2 linked regions of the Homo sapiens genome follow. The protein of the gene in region 1 purifies or fractionates together with the protein of each later gene. This does not show direct contact. Each region holds a gene or a part of one and is shown in the gene's direction. Other genes may lie near its edges.

What was found. The genes of interacting proteins can lie anywhere in the genome.
Region 2: the proteins of RASA2 (region 1) and KLHL7 purify together in Homo sapiens (affinity purification with western blotting; 2 studies listed by BioGRID and IntAct, with this or other methods). This does not show direct contact.

The regions. Positions count from the first base shown.
Region 1 is NC_000003.12:141,490,011-141,497,037, forward strand, and holds part of RASA2 (ras GTPase-activating protein 2), read left to right. Parts: intron 1-7,027. UniProt on the Homo sapiens protein: Inhibitory regulator of the Ras-cyclic AMP pathway. Binds inositol tetrakisphosphate (IP4).
Region 2 is NC_000007.14:23,122,758-23,129,784, forward strand, and holds part of KLHL7 (kelch-like protein 7), read left to right. Parts: intron 1-1,019; coding exon 1,020-1,122; intron 1,123-1,930; coding exon 1,931-2,024; intron 2,025-2,290; coding exon 2,291-2,415; intron 2,416-3,003; coding exon of another isoform or gene 3,004-3,062; exon of another isoform or gene 3,063-3,293; intron 3,294-7,027. UniProt on the Homo sapiens protein: Substrate-specific adapter of a BCR (BTB-CUL3-RBX1) E3 ubiquitin ligase complex. The BCR(KLHL7) complex acts by mediating ubiquitination and subsequent degradation of substrate proteins. Probably mediates 'Lys-48'-linked ubiquitination.

The DNA.
Region 1 (7,027 bases):
GACATGCAAATATGTTTCAGGTGTTTTATATGCGCTCAAACGAACCCAGGGAATTCGAGATCCATCTATAAGACAAAATATTGTCAGCAACCCTGGATTTGCTGCAGTTTGCGCTAGGAAACCATGACAGTTCTGAATTGTCTGCTTCCTTAAACTTTTTCAAGAGGTGAGTTTGGTTGTTTGATATCCTAAGGTTGTCATATGAACCCTTGATAAAGGAAATTAGGGGTGTACTCGACTCCATTCTTCGGTCTGCACTCCTGTGTAGCGAGTAGCAAGTATGCTAGAACACCTGAAACACATTTGCATGCTCCCTCCTCCCCTCAAAAAAAAAAAAAAAAAAAAAACCGTATTCAAACAGAAAAGAGGGATTGGGGCTTCCTCCTTTATGTATCTTCAGGCTTCATGCTGTTATTTGGTGACCTCCTTTTTGATTAGCACTTGTTAAGTTTCCTCTTATCCAATTACATTAGATTGTAAAAATGTTGCGGAGAGCACCCATGCCACCATATGTGTGGGCTTATCTACTCAAGGAATACCAGATCAATAAGAGAGCCAAATGGGAAAATTTTGTGTGAATTTTCAGATGTGTGGTACAGTGCGAGATCTGTGGGACTATGTGTTCCAAAACTCACTTAGTTTCTCTGGTGTCTTCAGACCAAGAATAGCCTAGGGTTATTTGACAGAGTAGGGAAGATCTATAGGGTATGGTTAAGTGCTTGAGCTTAGAGGCTGGGTGAAAAAGTTAGTTACCTGGGTTTGAATCTTCACCTAATTTCCAACTTTTGTTAATGTCTTTGGGCCTTCATATTCTCATATATAAAATGGGGATAGTAAAAATACCTATCTCACGGGTTGTTATGAGGTTTAAATAAGCCTCCCTCCCTACTCTGCCCCTCCTCATCTCTGCCTGCTCTTTCTCACTCCCCAGGATCTGGGTCATACACCGACCATCTCTTAGGAAGGAGTAAAGTAGGAGATAAAAACTAATCTTCATCTGATGTTCTTGTCCAATGTATACTGGAGTTTCCAGGTGTACAAAGCTGATTAAAATCTGAAGACCTATATTCTTCTTTAAACGTTGTTAATTAATCTTCATATGGCGTTAGCCAGCTCACTTATCTTGAAGCTTACCTTCCGCATCTTTTAAATGGGAATGATGCTTTTCCACTATCCATTGTATACAGGTTGTTCCCTCTGCTTGGGATTGTCTTTCTTCTTTACTCCACCCCATCTTTATGTCAGGAAGCTCCTACTCATCCCTCAAAAGCCTGCTCTATGTGATCTCCTTCCCAAAACCTTCTGAGACACTTCCAGTGCCATCTCTGGCCAGCATCTCTGCTGCTGGGGAACACAATTCCTTGCTCATTTCCTTATTATAGCACATTTCATAGAAATCATTTGTTCACTTCTCCTGTTAGATTGTGAGCTCTTTCAAGATAGAATTGATTCTTGTTCATTTTTAAAAAATCATCCCAGTGTCAGCACAATGCCTAGAACAGAATAGGCCTTTAGAATATGCCCTACCTCACAATGTTATCCTGTGGATAATTACTAGATATGAAAGTATTTTATAAATTATATACCTAAAAAAACTAGAAGGTGTTAGTATTAAGAGAAAACTGTATGAGTCTGCATCAGGAAGTTCATCCCTTTCAAAATCACAGTGCCCACTAAGCTTAGGTTTGAATTGATGCCAAAGTTGCCTTGTTAGGAAAAAGATTAAATTTTTCTTAATGCTCTGATTACTTATTATTAGGGCATTTGAATATTGTTACTAATTGGTCCTGGAGCTTGGAAAAGAAAATCTCATATTCATACTTTACACATTAAGTGTTTTAATTTGACATGACAGGTTTGAATAAAACCGTCTATTTAATTCTGTGAAGTATAAATCAAAACATTTTATTGACTATCCAGTAAAGTTGAGTGGAAGAGATTAAAAAGGGTGTATTCATGCTAAGAGTTCATTTTTATCAGATATTTGAAATGAGATGATGAGTTATTTAGGATGGAGGAAGAATCCATCTTTCAGATGGATAGAAACTGGGGAGAAAAGGGTTCTTTGTAAAAGTTCACAGAGCAGTCTGCTAATCATTTGCTCTGTGGAAGACGGGAGGTAAACCTCAGTGAGTTCATAGAGTTGTTTTTTTAAAACTTAGAACTCTTTGAATAGATCCTTAAGTGACTAATATAGCCAGAATAAAACCATCATTTTATCCTTTAATCATAGCTGCTAATCCTATTTCCTTGTTAATGTGCTTTATGAAATTATTTGACAATAATATCAGATTACATGTTTTTGCTACTAATAAAGTTCTATTCTCTTTTGAGAACTGCAAACAAAATGTTGTATAGTCATATATTCATGTAAGTTAAGCTTTTTATGTGTATTAAGACATTTTTATGGCATCTCTTTAGGTTTGTATGTAATTTTAGTTATCAAAAACCCCTATCTAAAGTGATAAACATTAAAAGTTTGTATCAGTACACATACAGAGAACCATAAATGACAAATTTGTTTTCCTGTCATTAATGACAATGACTTTGGGCAAATTCTTTAACCTTGCTGAGCCCGTATTTCCTTACTTGTAAAATTAGAGGTTTGGATATGGTCTTTAACATCCCTTCTACCATTTTGATTATTGCTTTTTAACTTGAACCATTTGCTTTAAGGCAGTACATCAGATGCTTTATTTTAGTGTTTAAATGTATTTAGTACACTTGTTTTGCATGATTCACTGTTTTAAAAATATTTAAGATTTATTAGATAAGAGCGTTTGAATTCTAAATTTTTTTTCTGTGACTGTTAATTAATTCAGCAGCACGTAATACATATCGAAGGGTCTGTTAAGAGACGCTAACCCACTGGACTGAAATGGGCCTAAGCTGTGAATCGGATGAAAGATCCTATTTTATCCTAAAGTCTATACTAAGCAATAGCTGTTTTTAGACATCTGTATTCTTAGACAATTATAGAAATTTAAAGCTGGAAGGTAGAGAACATGAAGGTAGAGAAAATAAAGGTTCTTACCCTTCATTTTACAAATGAAGAATCTAACAGAGACAGCAAGTGTCACACAGTTGATGGCCTGTTCGGCACTAGTCCACTATTATCAAAGTTCTTTCTAGAATGCTATATGAGATTAACTTATTACTATGAATGTTGCAAATGTACTACATTTAATACACAGAGATTATACTACTTATCTGTTTATATATTGAGAGGTGGTAAGATTTTCACTGTGCCGTCTACACACTCTTAACTGTTCCTTCTTAAGAACTTTGTGAAGTGGTTAGGATTAGTGATGAAACTATGGTTATGACCTAGGTGGAGATTGAACCTGGATGTTTAGTTACTTGTGCCATGGTCTACCTCAGCTATTTTCAGTTCTGACTGTCTGTCACCATCACCTGTGAACTAAAAAAATTATGATGCCCAGACTGTACCCCAGACCTACTAAGTCAGAATTTCTGGTTTCAAAAGTTCCATAGGGGGTGATGTTGGGCAGCTAGGATAGTGAATTTCTGCTTTTGTCACAAATAGATTAGCCACATACCCTACCTAAATGATGGCAACCTGCTGTGCTATCATTTAAAAGGTATCAGTAGAAAGGTTGGTATAGTTACAGTGAGATTTTAGTTTGTTTGCATATATATTTGATATATTAATTCTATTTGATTAGATAATATGAACACTTGGTACAAAATTCAAGAGGTACAAAACAGTATATACATTGAAAAGTATTCCTTCCTTTCATTATCTTCTAGCCATTCCCTCCCAAGAAGCAAGCATTACCAATTTGTTATATCCTTTTTGTTGTGTGTTCTTCCAGAAATTAAGCATTTACAAACATAAATTTATGTGCACTAATATATTCCTTCCACCAACATACAAATTATAGCAAAATATATACATTTTTCTGTATCTTGCTTTTTTACACTTAACAACATAGCTTGAAGATTTTTTCACATTCACATAAAGAGAGATCTGCCTTATTTTTTAAACAACTGCATAATATTTCATCATTTGGCTGTACCACAGTTTATTTAGCCAGTCCCCTATTAGTTGACACTTAGGTTGTAAACAGTCATTGCTATTACAGACATTACTACAATGAATAACCTTGTAAGCATGTCATTTTTAATATGAGTGTCTTTTTGTAGGATACATTTCTAGATAGATGTTAAATTGATGAATTGAAGGATATGTGCATTTTTATTTTGGAAAGACAATGCTAAACTATAGCAATTTAAGCTCTCACCAGCAATGTATGACTGCCTATTTCTTTATACCCACGTAGGGTGTATTTTAAAACTTCTTAATCTTTACTGGTCTATGAAATAAAAAGGAACATTTAATTTGTAGTTTTAATTTGCACTTTTAAATGAGAGTGAGGATTGCTCTGTCACCAGGGCACGATCTTGGCTCACTGCAACCTCCGCCTCCCGGGTTCAAGCGATTCTCCTGCCTCAGCCTCCCGAGTAGCTGGGATTACAGGCATGTGCCACCACGCCCAGCTAATTTTTGTATTTTTGGTAGAGACGGGGTTTCACCATGTTGGCCAGGATGGTCTCGATCTCCTGATCTCGTGATCTGCCTGCTTCAGCCTCCCAAAGTGCTGGGATTACAGCCGTGAACCACTGCGCCTGGCCCTAATTTTTAAATTTTAAATTTTTCTAAGGCTTGAAATTAAGTTATAGGATCTCTTCATATTTTTAAGAGCCTTTTTTTTTGATGTGCTATGTGAACTGGTCTATTTCTTTTGTCCTTTTTTTTCTGGTGAGTTACAGTCTTCTTGATTTGTGAGAAAATGCTTTATGCTGTAAGGAAGTTAGCTATTATTTTAAAACCTGTGCAAAGATTTAAAAAATCTGTATACTTTGGCTGATGCCTGAATTTATTCTTAAGTTGATTGTGAGATCCAGTGAGGGCAGTCAGTTGTAAGTTTCATCTACTTATATAACGTCTGATGGTTGAGAAATTGAGAAAGAACTGCTTGAGGAAAGGTAAGTGAAGACTTATAAACAAAAGTTAAAAGACAATAGATTGGGAGAAAATATTTGCAGTGTATCCTTCAGACAAAGGAAATGTGTATAACACTGAATTCTTTGCCAGGCACTGTTTTAAAGCACTTTATGCGTATTAACTAATTTAATCCTTACAGTAACTCTAAAAATACCATTATTATCCCCATTTTACACATTATGAGGAAACAGATACACAATAGCTAAGCTAAGTAAATTGACCAAGGTTAGATGGCTGGTGAATGGTGGAGCTATCAATCAGACTGGGCAGATTGGCTCTAGAGTCCATCCTGTTAACTCTTAACCTACTGTGCTATTATGCCTCTCTATTTATTATGTCCAGATTATATAAATAATTCATACAGACTTAAAAACAAGAGGCCATTAGAAAAATAAAGGATACGAATAGGCATCTCACAGGAAAGGAAATACAAATGTCCAGTAAACATGAAAATATTGGTAAAGTAAAAATTAATCAGGGAAATAAAATTTTAAAACATCAATTTACAAAAAAAGGAAAGTTTATCTCAGTCTTTGGTGAGGGTTTAGGGAAATAAGTATTTTCCTCATTGTTGTTGTGAGTTTAAATTGATAAAGCAATGTTGGAGAGCATTTTGGCTATATCTGTTAAGAATTTAAATGTCTATACACCATGCATTTTTACTTCTACCTATTTGCCCTGCATCAACAGTTGTACATTTAGAGAAGAGGCATATACAAAGATATTCAATGTTGCCTTGTTGGTAAAACAGAATAATTGGAGACGACTTAAATGTACATCGGTAGGAAAATGGATAATATGTTCATACACGTATTCTATAGCAACTAAAAAGAATGAGGTATATCTATGTTATGAAAGGAAAGAACTCCAGGATGTCTTGTTGGGTAAAAACAGCAAGTTGTAGAATAATATGTGTAGTATCCTGTGTATTGTTTTAAATCTCAAAACATTTTACTTTTCTGCATGTAGATGGATAAATACATAAAAAGAGGTCTGAACAGTTGTACAGATAACAGTGATTGCCTCAATGGTGGATAAAGGGAGTTAGCCGGTGCTGGGAAAACTGGCTAGGCATGTGTAGAAAGCTGAAACTGGAACCCTTCCTTACACCTTGTACAAAAATTAATTCAAGATGGATTAAAGACTTAAATGTTAGACCTAAAACCGTAAAAACCCTAGAAGAAAACCTAGGCAATACCATTCAGGACATAGGCATGGGCAAGGACTTCATGTCCAAAACACCAAAAGCAATGGCAACAAAAGCCAAAATTGACAAATGGGATCTCATTAAACTAAAGAGCTTCTGCACAGCAAAAAAAACTACCATCAGAGTGAACAGGCAACCTACAGAATGGGAGAAAAATTTTGCAATCTACTCATCTGACAAAGGGCTAATATCCAGAATCTACAAAGAACTCAAACAAATTTACAAGAAAAAAACAACCCCATGAAAAAGTGGGTGAAGGATATGAACAGACACTTCTCAAAAGAAGACATTTATGCAGCCAACAGACATATGAAATAATGCTTATCATCACTGGCCATCAGAGAAATGCAAATCAAAACCACAATGAGATACTATCTCACACCAGTTAGAATGGCGATCATTAAAAAGTCAGGAAACAACAGGTGCTGGAGAGGATGTGGAGAAATAGGAACACTTTTACACTGTTGGTGGGACTGTAAACTAGTTCAACTGTTGTGGAAGTCAGTGTGGCGATTCCTCAGGGATCTAGAACTAGAAATACCATTTGACCCAGCCATCCCATTACTGGGTGTATACCCAAAGGATTATAAATCATGCTGCTACAAAGACACATGCACACGTATGTTTATTGCGGCATTATTCACAATAGCAAAGACTTGGAACCAACCCACATGTCCATCAGTGATAGACTGGGTTAACAAAATGTGGCACATATACACCATGGAATACTATGCAGCCATAAAAATGGATGAATTCATGTCCTTTGTAGGGACATGGATGAAGCTGGAAAC
Region 2 (7,027 bases), on another chromosome or scaffold:
AAACTATATTAACAGTTTTAGTAAAATACTTAAAATTTGCAAAATGCAAATCCTCTGAGCCATGAAGCCAATCTTAGATTTGTAAGCGATATTTTTTTTACTCTGAATATATTATTTGCCTCATATTCCCAGTGCCTAGGACAGTCTTTAATACATTGTATACACCAAGTTTTCTGTAAGCCTAATCTCTATATTTTGTCTTTAACTTCGTTAAGAAATTAAGATTTTATTTGGCAAAAAGGACATTTATTTTTCTTGATATTCATTTATAAGTGTTCTAGTAAGCCTTAAATTTTTTCTTTATTATTCCGTTTTCCCCACATTTTAATTAAGTATTACTCAGAGCTGCCTTCTTTAAGCAGCTTATGGTGATACTATTTTGACGTTGGTCAGAAATCAGAATTTAAAACTGGCTGCTATCCAGCTTCTATCAGAAGTGCATTTGAGAGAAGTGTTATTTAATAAAAGATTGCTGAAAGGACATTTAGTTCATCTCCTCTCTGTATTCTGAGCTGTTTCTGTTTCAAGTTAGATCTGTGAATGCTACTTTCTTAGGAAATGCAGTGTATGTTCTCAATTTCATCAAGGATAAATAATGGAAAATAAATCATATAAAAACTAATTGCTGTGTTTGAAAAACTGTCAGGGTGTCAGGGGCACTGCCATGATGTCATTGAATTTCCCCCAGAAAAGCTTACCATGAGAAATGTCCTAGAATCTGTGTCAGAAAAAAAAAAAAAAAAAGACTTCTCTGAAGGGTTAGTAGACTTGTTTCTGATTATGAGGAACTTTTTCTTTCCTCTTGACTGTTGGAAAACTCAGTGCAAAATTTTTATACTACATGGCAGCGACTCTGTAAGTCCTTTCTAAATATGTCTTCAAAAGAAATTCTGCGCTGGAAAAAGATTGGCTTTAAATAGAAAATAGAGATAAAGCATTTGGCAAGCACCTTTTTAACATGTATTGCCAAGCTAGGCTAGTGAGCCTCTTTTTATTTTATGTATTTTTCCTTTGATTAGAAAACGTTGTGTGACGTGATCCTCATGGTCCAGGAAAGAAAGATACCTGCTCATCGTGTTGTTCTTGCTGCAGCCAGTCATTTTTTTAACTTAATGTTCACAAGTAAGTATCTTAAGGTAAAACATGCCATTATTTCTTCTATGAGAATGAAGTAAAATCTAAAAGAGAATATGTCATTTTTCTAATTTTTAAAGCAGTTAAGAACTTAAGGCCACAGAACAGTGAAGAGATTGAAAAAGTAGTCAGCTGATAACCAAAGGAAAAAATGTCCTTTCATTAGACCTAAAGGCCTGATGCCTTTATTGATGGAGGTACAGCTTCTACTTAAAAGCCCAGGGTTGAGGTGGAGGTTGCAGTGAGCCGAGATTGCACCACTGCACTCCATCCTGGGCGTCAGAGCGAGACTCTGTCTCAAAAAAAAAAAAAAAAAAAAAAAAAAAAAAAAGCCCAGGGTTTTCTTTTTAACCTTAGGTGGAAAGACAAAGAAGCAGATAAATTTCATAATATTTTAGCCGGCAAGTTAAACTTTAAAAAAAAAATAGCTGTAGCATATTGTGCCAGAAAGAACCCTGGATTTGGTGTTCAGAACTGGGTCCAAGTCCTACTTCCTCTACTTAGTACTATTTTATGAGCTTGGGAAAAAAACAAAATCTAGTTTTATGTTTCTGTTAATATGGTCTTAAAAAGAAGTACACTAATTCACTCTTTTCTTAGCTTAATTTAAGGCACATCTTGGGTGGAGAATTAATTTGCATTGACTATAGAAATGTTGGGCTTGCTGGGGCATTTTCTTCCAGAGAGAACTGTCCCGTTATTTTTCTGCATATTTAACATGGCCTGGAATGCCGTGGTTCCTCAGTCAAACTTGTGGTAGTACAGATGCCATTTATGTTTCTTCTCTTCATTGTAGCTAACATGCTTGAATCAAAGTCCTTTGAAGTAGAACTCAAAGATGCTGAACCTGATATTATTGAACAACTGGTGGAATTTGCTTATACTGCTAGGTGAGTTAAGTATTATTTTTATTTTAGAGAAGTAATGTTGGTATCTACCATGGCAAAGCATTGTCGTAACAAATAGTTGCACTACAAATTCTTCAAAATGAAAAACCGCAAGGATGGAAGAGTTTCAGTATCCTATGCCATACTAATTCAAGGACTGAAAGTTTAATTTTGTGTTTAATTTCAGGGGCTATTAGGATACATTCCACAGTAACATTTAAATAATAAAAAATCATGGGTAACTAATATTCCCTCTAACTTATTTGCAGAATTTCCGTGAATAGCAACAATGTTCAGTCTTTGCTGGATGCAGCAAACCAATATCAGATTGAACCTGTGAAGAAAATGTGTGTTGATTTTTTGAAAGAACAAGTTGATGCTTCAAATTGTCTTGGTAAGAAATATCAGATTCCTGTTGTGTGTTTATTTTGTTTTATCCTTTATTTCTAATTTAATTTTTTAAAAAGGCTGATTTTAAGTATCCGCATTTAACCTTAAAGACATTGTCCACTAGAACGTTTTCTAGTAATAAAATTTAAGAGGGGCTTAGAGAGATGCATATTAACCTGGGCAGCAGCAAGCTTATTAAATATTATATCAACATTTTCTAAAACACAAAATGGCATTTTTAATGGTTTTTCACGGATCTAGGACAATGAATAAGGATTGCATGTGGTGATAGTAACATGATTATGAATGTTTCCTTTTATTTAAGCACTTATGATATGCTAAGGTCTATCACAGATGAGGCAACTTATAGTTAGGTAACTTGCCAGAGGTCACATAGCTAGTGTATGAACGAGCTGGGATTGGAACTCAAGTAATCTAATTCTTAGCTACTACACCTTGCTGCCTCCCCACATTGTCAAAATGCTGTTTTATACTAGAAAACATAACCTTAGTCTATAAATTAAGATACTAACTGAGGGACTGCTATAGCCATTTTGAAGCTATTAATAAAGTATTTTCTATTTTGTGATAGGAGAAGCAGAAAAAGTTGATCAGAGCCTTCCAGAGTGTGGTATGCTTTTCACTGTGTGATGATCCTTAGTGGCACATGAATGAACGTCCAGATGTTTGTGCAGTAGCCCACCCTTATCTGCAGGATACGTTCCAAGACCCCCAGTGAATGCCTGAAACTGCAGATAGTACTGAATCCTATATATACTGTGTTTTTTATGATACATACATGCCTATGATGAAGTTTAATTTCTAAATTAGACAGTAAAAGATTAACAACAATAATAATAAAATAGAACAACTTTAACAATATGCTAGCATCACTACTCTTATATTTTGGGGCCATTATTAAGTAAAATAAGGGTTACTTGAACAGAGCACTGCAATACTAGGGTAGTCCACTTCATAACCAGGATGGTTTCTTAAGTGACAGGCAGGTAGGTTATACAGCATGGATATGCTGGTCAAAGGGATGATTTCTGTCCCAGGCAGGATGGAGCAGGATGACGTGAGATTTCATCACACAACTCAGAACAGCACACAATTTCAAACATATGAATTGTTTGTTTCTGGAATTTTCCATTTAATGTTTTTGAACCACAGAAAGCAAAACCATGGATAAGGGGGACTACTCTAATTCCATTTTCCTACGCTTGTTGTGATTCAGAGGCTTTAAAGAAAGGGAAGAGCGCTGGTATAGGAGTGCTAGGAAAGCAGGGAGGAAAGAAAAGTAGAATGAAGGAAAGTATAAAGAGGGGTCAAAGAATCCAGTCAGTGCTAAGATATTTGACCCAGGAGAAAAGAAGAGGGGTGCTAAATGACAAGAACGCAAAGACTGATGCAAAGGGCTCCTGAAGATGCTTCAGAATTTTGGCAAGTCTCCTCTGTCCCTACTTTTTGTAGGCTTTCCTCCTTCCGGACACTTTAGTACTCCTTCCTGCATACCCCCTCACTGTGAGCACAGAGAGAGAGATCTTGGAAGGCAGGTGGAAAGCAGCAGAATAAATTTCAGGAGGAAGTAAAAGTCAGGTGAAGGGAATAAAAATGAGACTTAGCCTAATATCCAGAAAAGGGATTGGACTAGATGGAGCAGGAAGAGAAATAGCTATGCAGGTGAATATACTGAAGGAATTTTTAAAAGGTAGCCATGGGTCTACATATTGAAAAGATCCCTATATTAGAAAATAAAAGGCCAATCTCTAATCCTACCTGTACAGCAGAGACACTCTGGCATGAGTCCTTCCATCTCTTTGGGCCGTAATTGGGGCTTCACTCATCAATAAGATTTATATTCCTAAGACTTAAGGTTACTTCCATTATATAAATAATTATCTTCAGACAATACTATAAACGGGGAATTACCTTAATTAAGTTTTTGGAAATGATGGCTTATGTATGTTTCTATAACTCCCTAGCACTCTAAATTTCCTCCTGGGGTGATTCAACTACAAAGAAGAATGGCTGAAATATAGGTAGGTAGTAGATGTGGTGGTGCAAAGCATAGTGTGGAACCTGGAGTGAGTCTGTGCTAAGCACATCTTAGGCTTTGGGCTTCTGAGGAGACCATTTAGTAGTTTTGCCTCTGGATACCTTCTATCCTTACTGTTCACAAAGCTGGGAGGAAGGACAGCCCCGCCACCTAGAAAGTAGCCTGATTCCTGGCTAAGCTTCTGGCAAAGACAGTGGCCCAGCCAGGTGAGCCAAGTGCCATAGCCCAATAACTAGGGAAACTGCTTCTGCTTGCTTTCTGTTTAGCCTTGAGCATGGCTCTCAATGTCAGCTGATTGGATAATTCCTAGCTTAGTTTTCACCACCTGTCAATTCTCTGCTGCCCAGAAAGAGTCCATCAATCGAGCTTCCACAAATGCTAAAGGAACCGGTGGCAGCTGATGGAATCGGGCAAAGATCATGTAAAAAATTAAACCCAGTACCAGCCTGGCCAACATGGTGAAACCCCTCTCTACCAAAAAAATACAAAAATTAGCCGAGTGCAGGCGTGGTGGCACACACCTGTAGTCCCAGCTACTCCGGAGGCCGAGGCGGGAAAATCGTTTGAACCGGGAGGCGGAGGTTGCAGTGAGCCGAGATCTTGCCACTGCACTCCAGCTGCATGAGACAGTGAGACCCTGTCTTGGAAAAAACAAAAAAAAACAGTAGTTTGAGGAACAGAAAACCAAGCTAAACAGCCAAAATGAATGGCTCCTGTAAGGCAAATTTAATGTGAGAAATAGAAGGGAACAAATTAACCGGGCATGGTTGTGCGCGCCTGCAGTCCAAGCTACTCCAGAGGCTGAAGCGGGAAAATCGCTTGAACCGGGAGGCGGAGGTTGCAGTGAGTGAGCCGAGATTGCGCCACTGCACTCTAGGCTGGACTACAGAGTGAGACTCTGTCTCAAGAAAAAAAAAAAAAGCAAACTTAAAAATACGATGTGTAAAAATATGGTTTTACAGTTTTTTGACATTCAATTGAATTGAAAAATAGAATCGATACTCTTAAAACTCAAACCGAAGAAGATCAAACAGGAAGTTGCCTCATGATACGAAACAAAAATGCAAAGGAAGCCACTAGTGAGAAGATAAAAGAAAGGGAAGGAAGATACAGGAACTGCAGTGTGAGGTAGGAGTTCCAGAAGGAACAGATGGAGAAAGCAATAATCAAATAAGACTACGACTTCTTTGGGTTTAAAAAAAAAAAAAAAAAAAAAAAAAAAAAGAACTTTAACTTTCGGACTAAGTTATACTGAGTATTAAACCTGATCAATGAACTAAGATATTCCTCCCTCAGATATATTCTAGTGATATTTTTCACCTTCAAAGATCAAAAGAGAGCTTACATTTGGGGTGATAAAAATATTCTGGAACTAGATAGTGGTGACTGTGGTACAACATTGCAAATGTAGTAAATGTCACGGTAAGTTTTATGTGTATTTTACCACATTAAAAAAAAAAGTGACCCTACAGCTAGCAGGTCCCAAAAGAAACTCCCACACCCACTAGCAGTCACTCCCCATTCTTCCTCTGGCAGGCCTGGCAACCATGAATCTGCTTTCTGCCCCTATAAATTTGCCTATTCTGAGTGTTTCATATAAATTGAATCATACCAAAGGTGGCCCTTTGTGTCTGGCCTCTTTGAGCACAGTGTTTTTAGGGTTCATCCATATTGTAGCATTTATCAGTACTTCATTTCTTCTTATGGCTGAATAATATTCCATTGCATGGATATACCAAAATGTGTTTATCCATTTACTGATGGGTGAATGTTTGAATTGTTTCCAAGCCAGCACATTTTATAGAGGAAAAGGAAAGCACTGGTTAACTTGAACAAAAAAAAATAAAAGTGCTTTCTACCATCTGGGACCTTGGCTGTGGATCAGGTGAGTGCACAGGTCAGACGAAAGCCCTACAGTTGGCACAGCCTGGGCCTCTGTCCATGGTTGCAGGGGCATCTCCGCAGCTACTGCATGCAGTGATCATGGGGGCCCCAGACCTGGGCTTAGGCAAGGGCACTGTGTTGTTGTACATCACCAAACACTTCAAGCTGAGGCACCTCTCCAGCAGGGACTGCTCCAGGACAACATGCTACAGGGCACATAAATTGGTATGTTAGCCAAGGCTTTTCTTGACCAAGGGAAACTCATCCCAAATGATGTTACGACTCGGCTGGCCCTTCATGAACTGAAAAATCTCACCTAATATAGCTGGTTTTCCAAGGACACTGCCATAGGCAGAAGCCCTAGATGAGCTTATCAGATAGACACAATGATTAACTTGTATGTGCCCTTGGAGGTCATTTAAACAACACTTCACTGCTTGCTGTTCATCTAGCTAGTGGCCGAGTCGACTACATTGAATTCAACCGTCCCCAAACTGTGGGTATTGCTGATCTGACTGGGAAGCCTCTCATTCGGCCTGAGAATAATAGACCAGAGACACAGTTATCAAGAGACTGAAGACTTATGGAGCCAGTCCCAGAACTTTACCAGAAAAAAACAGGGATGTTGGAAACACTCTCCAGAGCAGAAACCAACAAGATTTAACGTCATGTT